2 linked regions of the Homo sapiens genome follow. The protein of the gene in region 1 interacts with the protein of each later gene in a pairwise test. Each region holds a gene or a part of one and is shown in the gene's direction. Other genes may lie near its edges.

The links. The genes of interacting proteins can lie anywhere in the genome.
Region 2: the proteins of RTN3 (region 1) and SACM1L interact in binary tests that used the Homo sapiens proteins (3 or more experiments, as listed by UniProt).

Annotation. Positions count from the first base shown.
Region 1 is NC_000011.10:63,712,479-63,719,506, forward strand, and holds part of RTN3 (reticulon-3), read left to right. Parts: intron 1-6,223; coding exon 6,224-7,028. UniProt on the Homo sapiens protein: May be involved in membrane trafficking in the early secretory pathway. Inhibits BACE1 activity and amyloid precursor protein processing. May induce caspase-8 cascade and apoptosis.
Region 2 is NC_000003.12:45,692,378-45,699,405, forward strand, and holds part of SACM1L (phosphatidylinositol-3-phosphatase SAC1), read left to right. Parts: intron 1-7,028.

The DNA of each region.
Region 1 (7,028 bases):
TTTGATTTTTTTTTTTTTTTTTTTTGAGATGGAGTCTCACATTGTTGCCTGGGCTAGAGTGCAGTGGTGTGATCTTGGCTCACCGCAATTTCCACCTCCTGGGTTCAAGCGATTCTCCTGCCTCAGTCTCCCGAGTAGCTGGGATTATAGGCATGCGCCACCACACTCGGCTAATTTTTTTGTATTTTTAGTAGAGATGGGGTTCTCCATGTTGATCCGGCTGGTCTTGAACTCCTGACCTCGTGATCAGGACCAGCTCGGCCCCCAAAGTGCTGGGATTACAGGCGTGAGCCACCGTGCCTGGCCGACTTCGAATTTTTTAATAAGAATTTTTTGGCCGGGCGCAATGGCTCACACTTGTAATCCCAGCACTTGGAGAGGCCGAGGCAGGCGAATCACCTGAGGTTGGGAGTTCCAGACCAGCCTAACCAACGTGGAGAAACTCCGTCTCTACTAAAAATACAAAATTAGCTAGGCCTGGTGGCGCATGCCTGTAATCCCAGCTACTCCGGAGGCTGAGGCAGGAGAATCGCTTGAACCCAGGAGGCAGAGGTTGCGGTGAGCCAAGGTCACACCATTGCACTCCAGCCTGGGCAAAAAGAGTGAAATTCCATCTCTCAAAAATATAAAAGAATTTTTTATTTGGGTCTAAAAATTTAGAATTTAGAATATGACTACCAACTTAATTTCTTAGTCTTTGTTTCAGATAATATATCTCAGTGGAGTATTTAGAGTTTAAGAAGATGAGTAATCATGGAGCTGAGTACTTGATAAGTTTGAGAACATGTTCATGATCATTGTGGGGATATGACATTTTTTACCTCTTACCATATATCGATTCTCACCCACCCCCCATTTTTTGAAACAAGGTCTTGCTTTGTCACCCAGGGTGGAGTGCATGGCTCACTGCAGCCTCGACCTCCTGGGCTCAAGCAGTCCTCCCACTTCAGCCTCCCAAGTAGTCAGGACCACAGGTGTATGCCACCATGACTGGCTAATTGTTTAATTTTTTTGTAGAGATGGGGTCGCACTGTGTTGCCCAGGCTGGTCTCGAACTCCTGGGCTCAAGCTGTCTCCCTGCCTTGGCTTCTCAAAGTGCTAGGATTACAGGCATGAGCCACCACACTCAGCTGATTCCCTTTTTAGTAAATCTACTAGATCTATGACTTTATTTGTTAATAATTAGAGTAGCACCATGTTTTTAAGTGATTAGAACTCTTGAAAATGAATATCCACACTAAATTCCATTATAGCAAAGAACTAATTTAGAAAATGTTCATAATGAGAGTTTTGATGGCGATTTGTTTTGAGTAGTGTTGAAAGGCTCTTAGAGTGCATGTGAAGGGATGAATCTTTTGAGAAAAGAAAGATAGTAGACATTTTCTGAGACATAAAATAATCCAGATTTATTCCACCAGACAGCTTTACAGTGTATAGTATTTTAAGAGCTAACTGCCTTCAGATTCACTGGACTTTTCTGTCCTTTTGCCAGGTACTGACTTGGGCAACAGCAGTGACTACAAGTGCCATACTGACCAATTGGAAGAGTCTTTGCTTATCGGAGCTGTTCTAAAAGGCTTATTAGTTTTTGGTCTTCATTCTATTTAATGTTTTCATGCCTTTATAAACTTTTTACTTCCAGCCCAATTTTTCCCATTGTCTTGGTACAGGTCAGCTGTGTCCAAGTTTGTTAGGGTTTCAGCTAGCCAAAAATGGTATTTTCATTTGCTGAAATTCTAAACAAAATAATTAAAGTTAAAGCACAGATGATGATGCTACCTTATTTTTCTACATGTGGGAAAGCTTGATTGATAGTAATGATTAGCGCCTGCATCTCACAATCACTGAGAAATGAATGCAGCACTGAGCTCTGTTTGCCCTCTAAGCTTGTCCCCAGAAAAAACAAGATATACCCTAAATAGTAAGTTATAATATTTTTATTAGGGAACATTATTAGAGTTTTTTTTTAATATATCTCGTAGCCATGTCATATTAATCTTTTTTCTTTTTTCCTTTTTTTCATTTTTCTCTTTTCTCTTCTCTTCTCTTCTCTTTTCTCTTTCTCACTCTGTCACCCAAGCTGGAGTGCAGTGGCATGACCATGGCTCACTGCAGCCTTGACCTCCCAGACTCAAGCAATCCTCCCACTCCAGCCTCCCAAGTGACTGGGACTACAGGCACGTGCCACCATGCACGGCTAATTTTTCTATTTTTTGTAGGGGCAGGATCTCAGCATGTTGCCCAGGCTGATCTTGACCTCTTGGACTCAAGCAATTTTCCCTCCTGTGCCTCCCAAAGTTCTAAGATACAGGCATGAGCCACCACACCCAGCCTAGAGAATCCTTAATGTTTGAAGTCTGTCAGGCTATCATGGTGCTCAGCAGAGGATGTGTTAGTATTCTGAGAATAGGACTTCTAACTTTAGTTTTACCTGAGATTATTCTACACCTAACTTGAAACTTTTGGAGTATTAAAGGTTCAAAGAAGTTAAGAGAAAAGCAAAGCTTGATAAACTGACCAGTTTGTGTCCTGCTAAAGCATAGACAGTTTTACCATGCTCTTCCCAGTGACATGAATATTCTTTGGTTAGCATTCAATTTGGTTGCTTTCTTTTTTGTTTAATCAGGCACTGTCACCACTGTATTATTGTCATCATTTTGCTTATTGATTTTGCTTATTGTCTGCCTTCCCCTCTGTGTTGTAAGCTCCATAAAGGCAAGAAATTTTTTCTGTTTTATTCACTGCTTTAAGCCCAGTTTCTAAAACAGTGTCTGACACGTGGTAGGCACTCAATAAATACCTGTTGAATTATTACTAATTCATTTTGTAGACTTTCATCTGTAAGATGACAGATCTGAATCATCTGAAATCTCCATCTCCATAAAACATATAAGCTGGCTGGGTGCAGTGGCTCATGCCTGTAATCCTAGTACTTTGTGAGGCTGAGGCGAGCAGATTGCTTGAGCTCAGGAGTTCGAGACCAGCCTGCGCAACGTGGTGAAACCAGCTCTCTACTAAAAATACAAAAAATTAGCCAGGTGCGGTGGTGCACGCCTGTAATCCCAGCTACTTCGGAGGCTGAGTCAGGAAAATCGCTTCAATCTGGGGGGCGGAGGTTGCAGTGAGCCGAGATTGCACCACTGCACTCCAGCCTGGGCAACAGAACTAGACTCTGTCTAAAAAAAACACACAAAAAACACACAAAAAAACATATAAGCTGAACCTCCCCTGTGGGGTGGAGTCAGTTTGACTCACCTCAGAGTTGTTTGAAGAGAGAGGTTCCCAAACAGTTTTACCATAACCTTAGTTCACTGAATGTTTTGTGGTAGAAACACTGACTAGTAAGTTCAGTAACAATGCATGGCTCAGATTGTGGAATATTTCTGATTTAAATGTAATCTGTAGTACTTCACACTTCAGATTTTTGAACCTTTTAACCTACAATACTGGGCTTCATTTCTGTTATGCCCTAATCTAGTCATGCTGAATATCCATACTGTATAATGGTAGATGCAAACCATGTTTACTAAATTAGAACTACATATGAATTACAGTTTACTTCAAGTGTTTTGTTTTGGTAATATAGCTTTGCCACCAAGCTTTTACAGTTTTCCTTGAATGTACAAAGACTTTTTATTCTAATAACCAGATTACAGTTATACTATTTCTAAAGCTCAGCTCTTATTACATCAAGTTTCAGTGATGTGTTGAAGTAGGGGAACTTTATATGGCATTTCAAAACATTTTCATAATACTGGAATTTTATTTATTGTAAAATATTTTTGTCTTTAATAAAATAATTTTGAATGAAGTCATAATTTTGCTTTTATCTGGTATTTGGATGTTTACATGAAAAAGGGAACATAAGCTGAATAAAGGTAATCCCAAAAGAACTTCTCTGTCACATTTTCCCAGTTACTCATTCATGCTCAAGGCATTGCTGTCCTGAGCCTACTTAGGTCTCAGCTGACCAAGCTGAATCTTTGATTCACTTATTTGGGGCTATTTATTTAAGACCCACTTTGTCCCAGCTCCAAAGATACAACAGTATGCAAGAAAGACAGCGCCCAGGGTGGGCGTGGTGGCTCATGCCTATAATCCCAGCACTTCAGGAGGCCGAGGTGGGCAGGTTGCTTGAGCCCAGTAGTTTGAGACCAACCTGGCAATGTAGTGAGGCACCAGGTCTGTAGAAAGTTTAAAAATCAGGCCAGGCGCGGTGGCTCATGCGTGTATTCCCAGCTCTTTGGGAGGCCGAGGCAGGCGGATCACGGGGTCAGGAGATCGAGACCATTCTGGCTAACACGGTGAAACCCCGTCTCTACTAAAAATACAAAAATAAAATTAGCCAGGCGTGGCGGCGGGTGCCTGTAGTCCCAACTGCTTGGGAGACTGAGGCAGGAGAATGGCGCGAACCCGGGAGGCGGAGCTTGCAGTGAGCAGAGATCGCGCCACTACACTCCAGCCTGGGCGACAGAGCAAGACTCCGTCTCAAAAAAAAAACAAAAAAAAAAAAAAAAGAAAAGAAAGTTTAAAAATTAGCCAGGTGTGGTGGCATGTGCCTGTGGTCCCAGCTACTTGGGAGGCTGAGGTGGGAGGATAGCTTGAGGCCAGGAGGTCAAGGCTGCAGTGAGCCACAATTGTACCACTGGCACTCCAGCCTGGAGGACAGAGGGAGACCCTCTCTCAAATACAAACAAACAAATAAATGAAGTAAGAAAGCACCAGCCCTTGGGATATTTGTTTTGATCCTTTTCCCCAGTAAAAATTTGTTAGAGTGGGAAGTTAGAAAACAGTGTGGTAGATTGATGGCTACTATGGTATTAACTGATAAGACTTAACGTATTACTTTGAGAAGGATATTTTCTATTTTAAAAGTAATTCTGGAGTTAACTCTGTCTTTTTTTTTTTTTTTTTTTTTTTTTTTGAGACAGTTTCACTCTTGTTGCCCAGGCTGGGGTGCGATGGCGTGACCTCAGCTCACTGCCATCAATGTCTGCCTCCTGGGTTCAAAGGATTCTCCTGCCTCAGCCTCCCGAGTAGCTGGAATTACAGGTGCCTGCCACCACGCCCGGCTAATTTTTTTGTATCTTTAGTAGAGATGAGGTTTCACCATTTTGGTCAGGCTGGTCTCGAACTCCTGACCTCAGGTGAGCCACTGCACCCAGCCAAGTTAACTCTGTCTTAACCAAAGAAATCAATTTGCACAGTACAATATTGATTTAAATGACAAGTTAGTACAAGAGATTTTGGAGGGGCCAGGCGTAGCGGCTCACACCTGTAATCCCAGCACTTTGGGAGGCCAAGGCGGGTGGATCACTTGAGGTCAGGAGTTAAGAGACCAGCCTGGCCAACATGGTGAAACCCCATCTCTTCTAAAAATACAAAAATTAGCTGGGCTTGATGGTGCCTGCCTGTAATCCCAGCTACTTGAGAGGCTGAGGCAGGAGAATGGCTTGAACCTGGGAGGTGGAGGTTGCAGTGAGCTGAGATTGCGCCATTGCACTTCAGCCTGGGCAACAAGAAAAAGACTCCGTATCAAAAAAAAAAAAAAAAGATTTTGGAGGGGGTCCACCTTTTTCAGTACCCTTTAGTTTAGAACATCACAGCTATTTATTTGTACATGGGACAGATTCTCCCTGTGGATAGAATAGAATAATTCTAGTCTCATTTTTCAGATTCAGGAAGGGCCCATTGCATCTCCTAAAAATCAAAAAAGTCTGGCCACTAGTTTTTTTCCTTTTCAGATTGTGAGACTAACAGATTTATAGAGGCAGTCTGTGCTCTGAATTGTTCAGCTTACAGATTGAAGTCTATCAACCCTTTATAGTATCAGGTTATTTGTTTTGTATAAATTATTTTGCTTTTGTTGATTAGCTCTATCAAAGAATAAAAAACCTCCCAAGATTTCTCAATCTTACCGCCCTTCTTTATGCTTTCTCTGTACAATGGAAAAGTAGACCAAAAGTATTTGTCATGAAAATTTTTTATCATTTGCAGTTTGTGGCATGATATGGCTTTTCTGTTTCACTGTTGGCAGTTTTATGCATGTCCTGTAGGATAACTTGATCGTTTTGTTACATATTTATGTGTGTATATATACATCCTGTGTGTGTATATATATATTTATGTAATTTAAAAAATAAAAAGCATGCTGCTTGGCTTGGCTAGCTAATGTGTAATTGTACCTGGTAAACAATTTTTTTCTTTGAAATTCTGATCATAGAGGGATTGAGCTCTCTTTGCTCTGATGAGCCATCTTCAGAAATTATGACTTCTTCCTTTCTTTCATCTTCTGAAATACATAACACTGGCCTTACAATACTACATGGAGAAAAAAGCCATGTGTTAGGGAGCCAGCCTATTTTAGCCAAAGAAGGAAAAGACCACTTGGATCTTCTAGATATGAAAAAGATGGAAAAGCCTCAGGGGACCAGCAACAACGTATCAGACTCTTCAGTTTCTCTTGCAGCAGGAGTTCATTGTGACCGTCCTTCTATTCCAGCCAGTTTCCCAGAGCATCCTGCTTTTCTCTCAAAGAAAATTGGTCAAGTGGAAGAGCAAATAGATAAAGAGACCAAGAACCCAAATGGGGTATCAAGTAGGGAGGCTAAAACTGCATTGGATGCTGATGACAGATTCACTTTGCTGACAGCCCAGAAACCACCTACTGAGTACTCTAAGGTAGAAGGCATTTATACATATTCTTTGTCTCCATCCAAAGTTTCAGGAGATGATGTTATTGAAAAGGATTCCCCTGAATCACCATTTGAAGTAATTATTGACAAAGCAGCATTTGACAAAGAATTTAAAGACTCATATAAGGAGAGCACAGATGATTTTGGTAGCTGGTCTGTGCACACTGATAAAGAATCATCCGAAGACATTTCAGAGACTAATGACAAGCTTTTTCCACTGAGAAATAAAGAGGCAGGACGTTACCCAATGTCTGCATTGCTCAGTAGGCAGTTTTCACACACAAATGCAGCACTGGAAGAGGTGTCCAGATGCGTGAATGATATGCATAACTT
Region 2 (7,028 bases), on another chromosome or scaffold:
CAGTGGTGTGAGCTCAGCTCACTGCAGCCTCAGCCTCCCAGGCTCAAGTGATCCTCTCACCTCAGCCCCCAAAGCATCTGGGACTACAGGTGCACATCACCATGTCTGGCTGATTTTTTCTGTTTTTCAGTTTCGCCATGTTGCTGAAACTTGAACTCCTCGTCTTAAGTGATCCATGCACCCTGGCCTCCCAAAGTGCTGGAATTACTGGCATGAGCCACCATGCCTGGCCCAAAGAGAGTTTAGATGAAGTACTTAGTGTACCTCATAGGTACCTTCTTTGAGAAATGTTTTCTTTCCATGTCTTTTCCTTCACTGAGTTCTGGTAACAGTTTTTAAAGCCAAAAATGAAAAATTATTGTAACAGGGTTAGACACCAAATGTTTACATGATTTATGTATTCTGTCTCTTAGGATCAGTTTACAGTGCATTTACTTTCTCATGGACAAGAGGATGGAAAGCTAGAATGGTCAATCCATAGTACTGTTTGAACCACTCATTTTGTCACTTAGAAATGAAATCATTATGTACACCGTTATGTGACTCTTACTGACAGAGATACATTCTGAGAAATATGTTAGAAATATGTTAGGCAACTTCTTTGTACAAACATCAGAGTATAATTACACAAACCTAGATGGTACAGCCTACTACACACCTAGGCTATATGGAATAGCCAGTTGTTCCTAGGCTACAAACCTGTACAGCAGGTTACTGTACTGAATACTGTAGGCAGTTGCAACACAATGGTAAAGATTTGTGTATGTATACATACATAAACAAGAAAAGGTACAGTAAATATACGGTATTATAAGCTTATAGGACCACCATCATATGTGTAGTCTGTCGTTGACCAAAGCATTGTTACATGGCACATGGCTGTACTTTGTTTCTCCAACCAGTTTACACCTTAACATTTTCTTCTCTAGTCCTCCTCAGTACCTAACATAGAGCCTTGTGCAGAGCAGCTCCTCAGTGAATCAACTGAGTAAATGAAAGGAACTTTCCAGTATAGACCACGTACTAGCACTGCAAAAAGAACACAGTCTAGGGTAATTTGGAATGTATCGTTTTGAAGAAACACAGCTTAAAAGTCATTTCATGTATATTGTCTTCCCAGTGTCTCTGTGAGGTCATAGGTTGATAGGTATCCTGTCATTGTTGAAAACAGTCTCATAATTGCCCTTGGCCACAAAGTCAGATCATACAGCCAAGCCATGGTAGAGCTAGCCTTGGAATACGGCTGGTCCAGAGTCCAGTGATCTTTCCATTTCATTGCATTATCCATATGACCTTTTTTTCTCTTACCAGATTGCTCTCGCATTAGTCCTCAGACATGCCAGGTATTGAAATGAGTCACTTACAACCAAATATAGTTGACATGTCCATATTAATTTCCATATGTTTAATGTGGAAAACAGAATATTGATTTGCTCAGAATTTAAAATTCATACTTTTTAAACTTCCAGGCAGTTCTAAATATCCTGTTAGGCTCCATTTTTCTTTTTAAGCCATTTGTATAGGCATGGATAATGTCAGACAGTGATAAATTTGAAATTGCAAAATAATTAGACTGGAAATGTAATTTTTAAGAAGCTTATCTATCCCTGTATATAAGCTAAAATACCTTGGCAGTTCGGCGTAGGTGTCACATTTCCTTTGCAGGGAAATGACATCAAATGTGGTTTGGGCACTTCTTAGGCCCCTCAGACCTCAAGCTCATAATAACTTTCTAAAAGGTTCAGTGGAAAGTTAGAGGTGCAAAATTATTGGATACATTTAAAGCATTTTTTCTTCTTTTTTTTTCTTTTTCTTTTAAAAGGTCAGTTGAAACTAGGTGTAAGGCAGGGAATCCTTTAGTTACTGCATCAGGCTGCAGCATGCCTCTGAAGAGTACTGTTTCCTCAGGAAATTGCCATTTTTAAAAGAGTCTCATAACTGTGAGGTCATCAGTCAGGGCAGATATGATCCAACCTTGAAAACAGATGTAACCTAAGCTACCTTGTGATACAGACACATATAATCTGTTCAATATAATGAACATTCATATTATTCACAGAAGTCTCCCGGTGGAGGGAAGGGTGTAGGGCAGCTCAGATTATTCTCATGAGTTTTAGCACAGACAATATGGGGTTTGTATCCAAAGCATTAGTTGGCTGGGAGTTCAGGCTAGTTCAGGCTTACCTAGGCTCACGTGGCTAGCCTAGGTTAGTGCTAGGCTACATCAAATGACTTGGTATGCTTGTTTTAAGTGCGTATTCCAGGGCCCCACATTAGGCCTACTGAGTGAAAATCTCTGGGGATGAGCGGTGGAAATCTGCAAGTTTAACTAGCTATCCTGGTAGTTTTTATGCACTCTGAAATATTTTAGGGCTGGGCATACATAGCTGAGTTAGGACCAGAACATGCTGGTAGAAGAGAATTCTTTGGAAGATATGGGGCTCTGGTAGATTGTGCTGTGGATTAGAGCTTCAGATTAGGTGGAATTTGGACCTAGTCCTGTGAAGAAGTCTGGTTGAGAGAATGGGTTTTAGGGCATTCAGGGAATAGGATATAGGTGGGAACACAGAGTTTTGAGAAAGAGGATAGCATTAGAATGAGTCTTTCTAGAAACACCAACTGGTTTGGAATTGGGTTGTGCCCCTGGGGAGTCTGTGATGAACTTGAGCTATAGGAGAGGCAACCAGGGAGGGCTCAGTGAGGAGATACCCAAAGGGAGGATGAATGGGGGAGGTAGGAGCACCTTCTGCCTATGAGTGTAGTATGTGCAGGGGATCCTTCTTTACTAAGTTGTTTTCTTTTTGCTCACCAAACCTAGTAAAGTGTTGTGCCTCTGTCTTTTCAACCAGAGATGTATTAAATTTGATCATTAAGACCTTGATTTAATTCTTTTTTTTTTTTGAGATGGGGTCTCACTCTGTTGCCCAGGCTGGAGTGCAGTGGCGCAGTCTCGGCTCACCACAACCACCACCTCCCAGGTTCAAGTGATTCTTGTGCCTCAGCCTCCCTTGTAGCTGGGACTACAGGCATGCACCACCAGGCCCGGCTAATTTTTGTATTGTTAGTAGAGACAGAGTTTCACCATGTTGGCCAGGCTGGTCTTGATCTCCTGACCTCAAGTGATCCACCTGCCTCGGCCTCCCAAAGTGTTGGGATTACAGGCATGAGCCACTGCACCCAGCCAAATTCTTTACGTAAGATTTTTGAGGGAATATGTTCTTGCTACAGTTTTATGACATATCACTGTGGCTCCTATGCAAAATAGTGGTTTCATTATTTTTAAAAATTGTGGTAAAATAAAACATTAAATTTACCATCTCAACCATTTTTAAGTATACAGTTCAGGGGCAATAAGCACATTCATGTTGTACAACCGTTATCACCATCCATCACCAGAACCGTTTTCATCTTGCAAAAATAAACTCTGTACCCATTAAACAACTCCCCATTTCTGTATCCTCCCAGCCCCTGGCAACCACCGTTCTACTTTCTGTCTCTATAAATTTGACTTCTCTAGATGCCTCATGAAGTGGCAGTATTTGTCCTTTTATGACTGGTTTATTTCACTTAGCATAATGTCCTTAAGGTTCATCCATTGTGTAGCATGTGTCAGAATTTCCTTTTTTTTTTTTTTTTTTGAGATGGAGTCTCGCTCTGTTGCCTATGCTGGAGTACAGTGGTGCGATCTCGGCCCACTGCAACCTCTGCCTCCTGGGTTCAAGCAATTCTCCTGCCTTAGCCTCCTAAGTAGCTGGGATTTCAGGTGCCTGCCACCACGCCCAGCTACTGTTTTGTATTTTTAGTAGAGACAAGGTTTCACTGCATTTGCCAGGATGGTCTCCATCTCCTGACCTCGTGATCCGCCTGCCTCGTCCTCCCTGAGTGTTGGGATTCCAGGCCTGAGCCACTGTGCCTGGCCCAGAATTTCCTTTCTAAGGCTGAATAATATTCCATTATATGTATGTACCACATTTCGTTTGTTCATTTGTTAATAGACACATAGGTGGCTTCCACCTTTTTGGCTATTGTGAGTAATGCCAGTATGAATGTGAGTATACAAATACCTTTTTGAAACCCTACTTTCAGTTATTTTGAGTATATACCCGGAAGTGGAATTGTTGGGTCATATGGGAATTCTATTTTTAATTTTTAATGGGCCACCATACTGTTTTCCCATAGTGGCTGCACCGTTTTACATTCCCACCCACAAAGCACCAGGATTCCAGTGTCTCCGCATCCTAGCCAACACTCGTTATTTTCTATCCTGGGTTTGTTTTTTTTTTCCTTCTAGATAATAGCCATTTTAATGGGTATGAGGTTGGTAAGTAGTAATGTTTTTGTAGTGGGCCAGTTTTACTCATTGATTTGACAGGATTTTAAAGAGATCAGTTGTCTGAAATAAGACGTGAATGTTACATGAGAGATAAATGTTTTCAGACACTAGAAAATCGCAATGCCAACACTGAAAGAAAATAAAAATATTTGATGTTAATATTATAATTAAAGATATTGCTTTTCTTAAAATTTAACAAGACTAATTTTTTAAAAAACACTCTTAAGAGCTGTTGAATCCCAGGTGACTATAAGATTAAATGCATTTGTATTAAGTGTAATACCAGAACTGCCTTTGTTGCATTTAGCTTTTAGTCCCAGTTCCACTTCTGGGATACTCAAAATAATTAAAAGTAAGGTCTCAAAGAGGGATTTGTATACCCCTGTTCATAGCAGCATTATTCACAACAGTCAAAAAGGAGGAAGCAACCTAAGTGTTGATTCTTTCTTTTTTTTTTATTTCAACATTTTTTGTAGAGATGAGATCTCGCTGTGTTGACCAGGCTGGTCTCAAACTCCTGGCCTCAAGATCCTCCTGCTTTGTTTTTCTTTTCTTTTCCTTTTTTTTTTTTTTTTTTTTTTTTTAAGACAGGCTCTTGCTCTGTTGCCCAGGCTGGAGTGTAGTGGTGCGATCTTGGCTCAGAGCAGCCTCTGCCTCCCAGGTTGAAGTGATCCTCCGACCTCAGCCTCCTGAATAGCTGAGGCCACAGGTGCATACCACCACACCTGGCTAATTTTTGCATTTTTTGTAGAAACGGGGTTTTGCCATGTTGCCCAGGCTGGTCTCAAACTCCTGGGCTCAAGCAGTCCTCCTGCCTCAGCCTCCCAAAGTGCTAGGATTACAGGCATGAGCACTGTATCCAACCACTTTTTCTTTTTTATGCCATGCTTGGACAGTAATCCTTAAAAGCAAAATGACGAACTGAATGAAGGTAGTCAAAATAGGAGCAATTATTATACAAGTATTATGCTATTTTGATATATCTTCCATAGTATGTGTCTTATTAATGGGAACCAGAACTCTGGGTAGGTATGGGATCCCCTTGTCTTGACAGATATTTGGTAGGATTCTTGTTCAGTTAGAGTTAATAGTGAATTGGAGGCTAATCACCTCACCAGATAGTTTATATAGGACCAGAACCCTTTTTAGTATACAGTATTACTTTGAACCTTAGAGATCTGTTATCAACAGTATAGATAATGACCAAATAATCTTCTTGGATCGAATCTTGTCTTCCGAAATCCATTTCATAAAATAAGTAATATGATAGCTTGTTTGGTAAAGATTTAAACACAAAAATAGCAATAAAACAATACACACCAGGAAAAATTATACCACTGAATGTTTACTTAATTGTTTTTGACGGTTTAAATGCTAGAGAGTTAAAGTTAATTTCACTGGCTTTTGAAATGAAGCCCAGGAAGCATAAAACATAGAATAAAATTTATTACATAAAACAATTATGCTTCAGATCAGTATTAAGACCAATACAAAAGTGGTGGGAAATGAGAGGAAGAGAACAGTAAGGGCATATATGTAGGTGCCGTGAGTTAGGATGATACCTGCTGTTATGGTTAACAGAATTGTGAGTCATTACTTCTAATGAGCATCCCTAGAAATGTTGATTCCCTGGCAGTCACTGTTCACATTTTCATTGCTCCAATTCTTAAGCCTAGAGATACCACTTTCAGTGACATTATCAGAATAGCCTGATGGCAGCATCAGCAATTTAGATTCCAACAGCATCTCTCAGAGAGAGAAGATCAAGCAAAGGCCTCAGGACTTTTGAGCGAGACATCTCTACCTTGATCCATAATTACTCTTATTTGTATACTTTGTTATAATACTTTTTTTTTTGAGACAAAGTCTCGCTCTTGTGCCCCAGGCTGGAGTGCGATGGCGCAATCTCTGCTCACTGCAACCTCCGCCTCCCAGGTTCAAGCGATTCTCCTGCCTCAGCCTCCTGAGTAGCTGGGATTACAGGCGCCTGCCACCATGCCTGGCTAATTTTTGTATTTTTAGTAGAGATAGGGTTTCACCATGTTGGCCAGGCTGGTCTTGACTGAACTCCTAACTTCACGGAGTCTTGCTCTGTCACCAGCCTAGAGTGCAGTGGCGTGATCTCAGCTCACTGCAACCTCCACCTCCTGGGTTCAAGCAAGCGATTCCCCTGTCTCAGCCTCCCGAGTAGCTGGGACTACAGGCACGTGCCACCGCACCCAGCTAATTTTTTTGTTTGTATTTTAGTAGAGACGGGTTTCACCATGTTGGCCAGGATGGTCTCGATCTCCTGACCTTGTGATCCACCCGCCTCGGCCTCCCAAAGTGCTGGGATTTTGCATGAGCCTCTGCGCCTGGCCTGTAATACAGTTTTTAAATCTTATTTTTATTTCAATCTTATGTATACGGTTTAAAAGTAAGTAGTATACAAAGCTTATAATAACAGAGGCATCTACTTTTTTAAGCAACTTCTGGTATTTTACTCCATATCTAGCGCACCAGCATGGCACATGTATACATATGTAACTAACCTGCACAATGTGCACATGTACCCTAAAACTTAAAGTATAATTAAAATAAATAAATAAATAAAAAAATAATAGTAGCAGTAATGGTAAAAATAAAAAAATAAAAAAATGCTCATATTAGGCTGGGCTCTGGTTTATGTAGCTGTGGTTCAAATGAAGCCTCATGG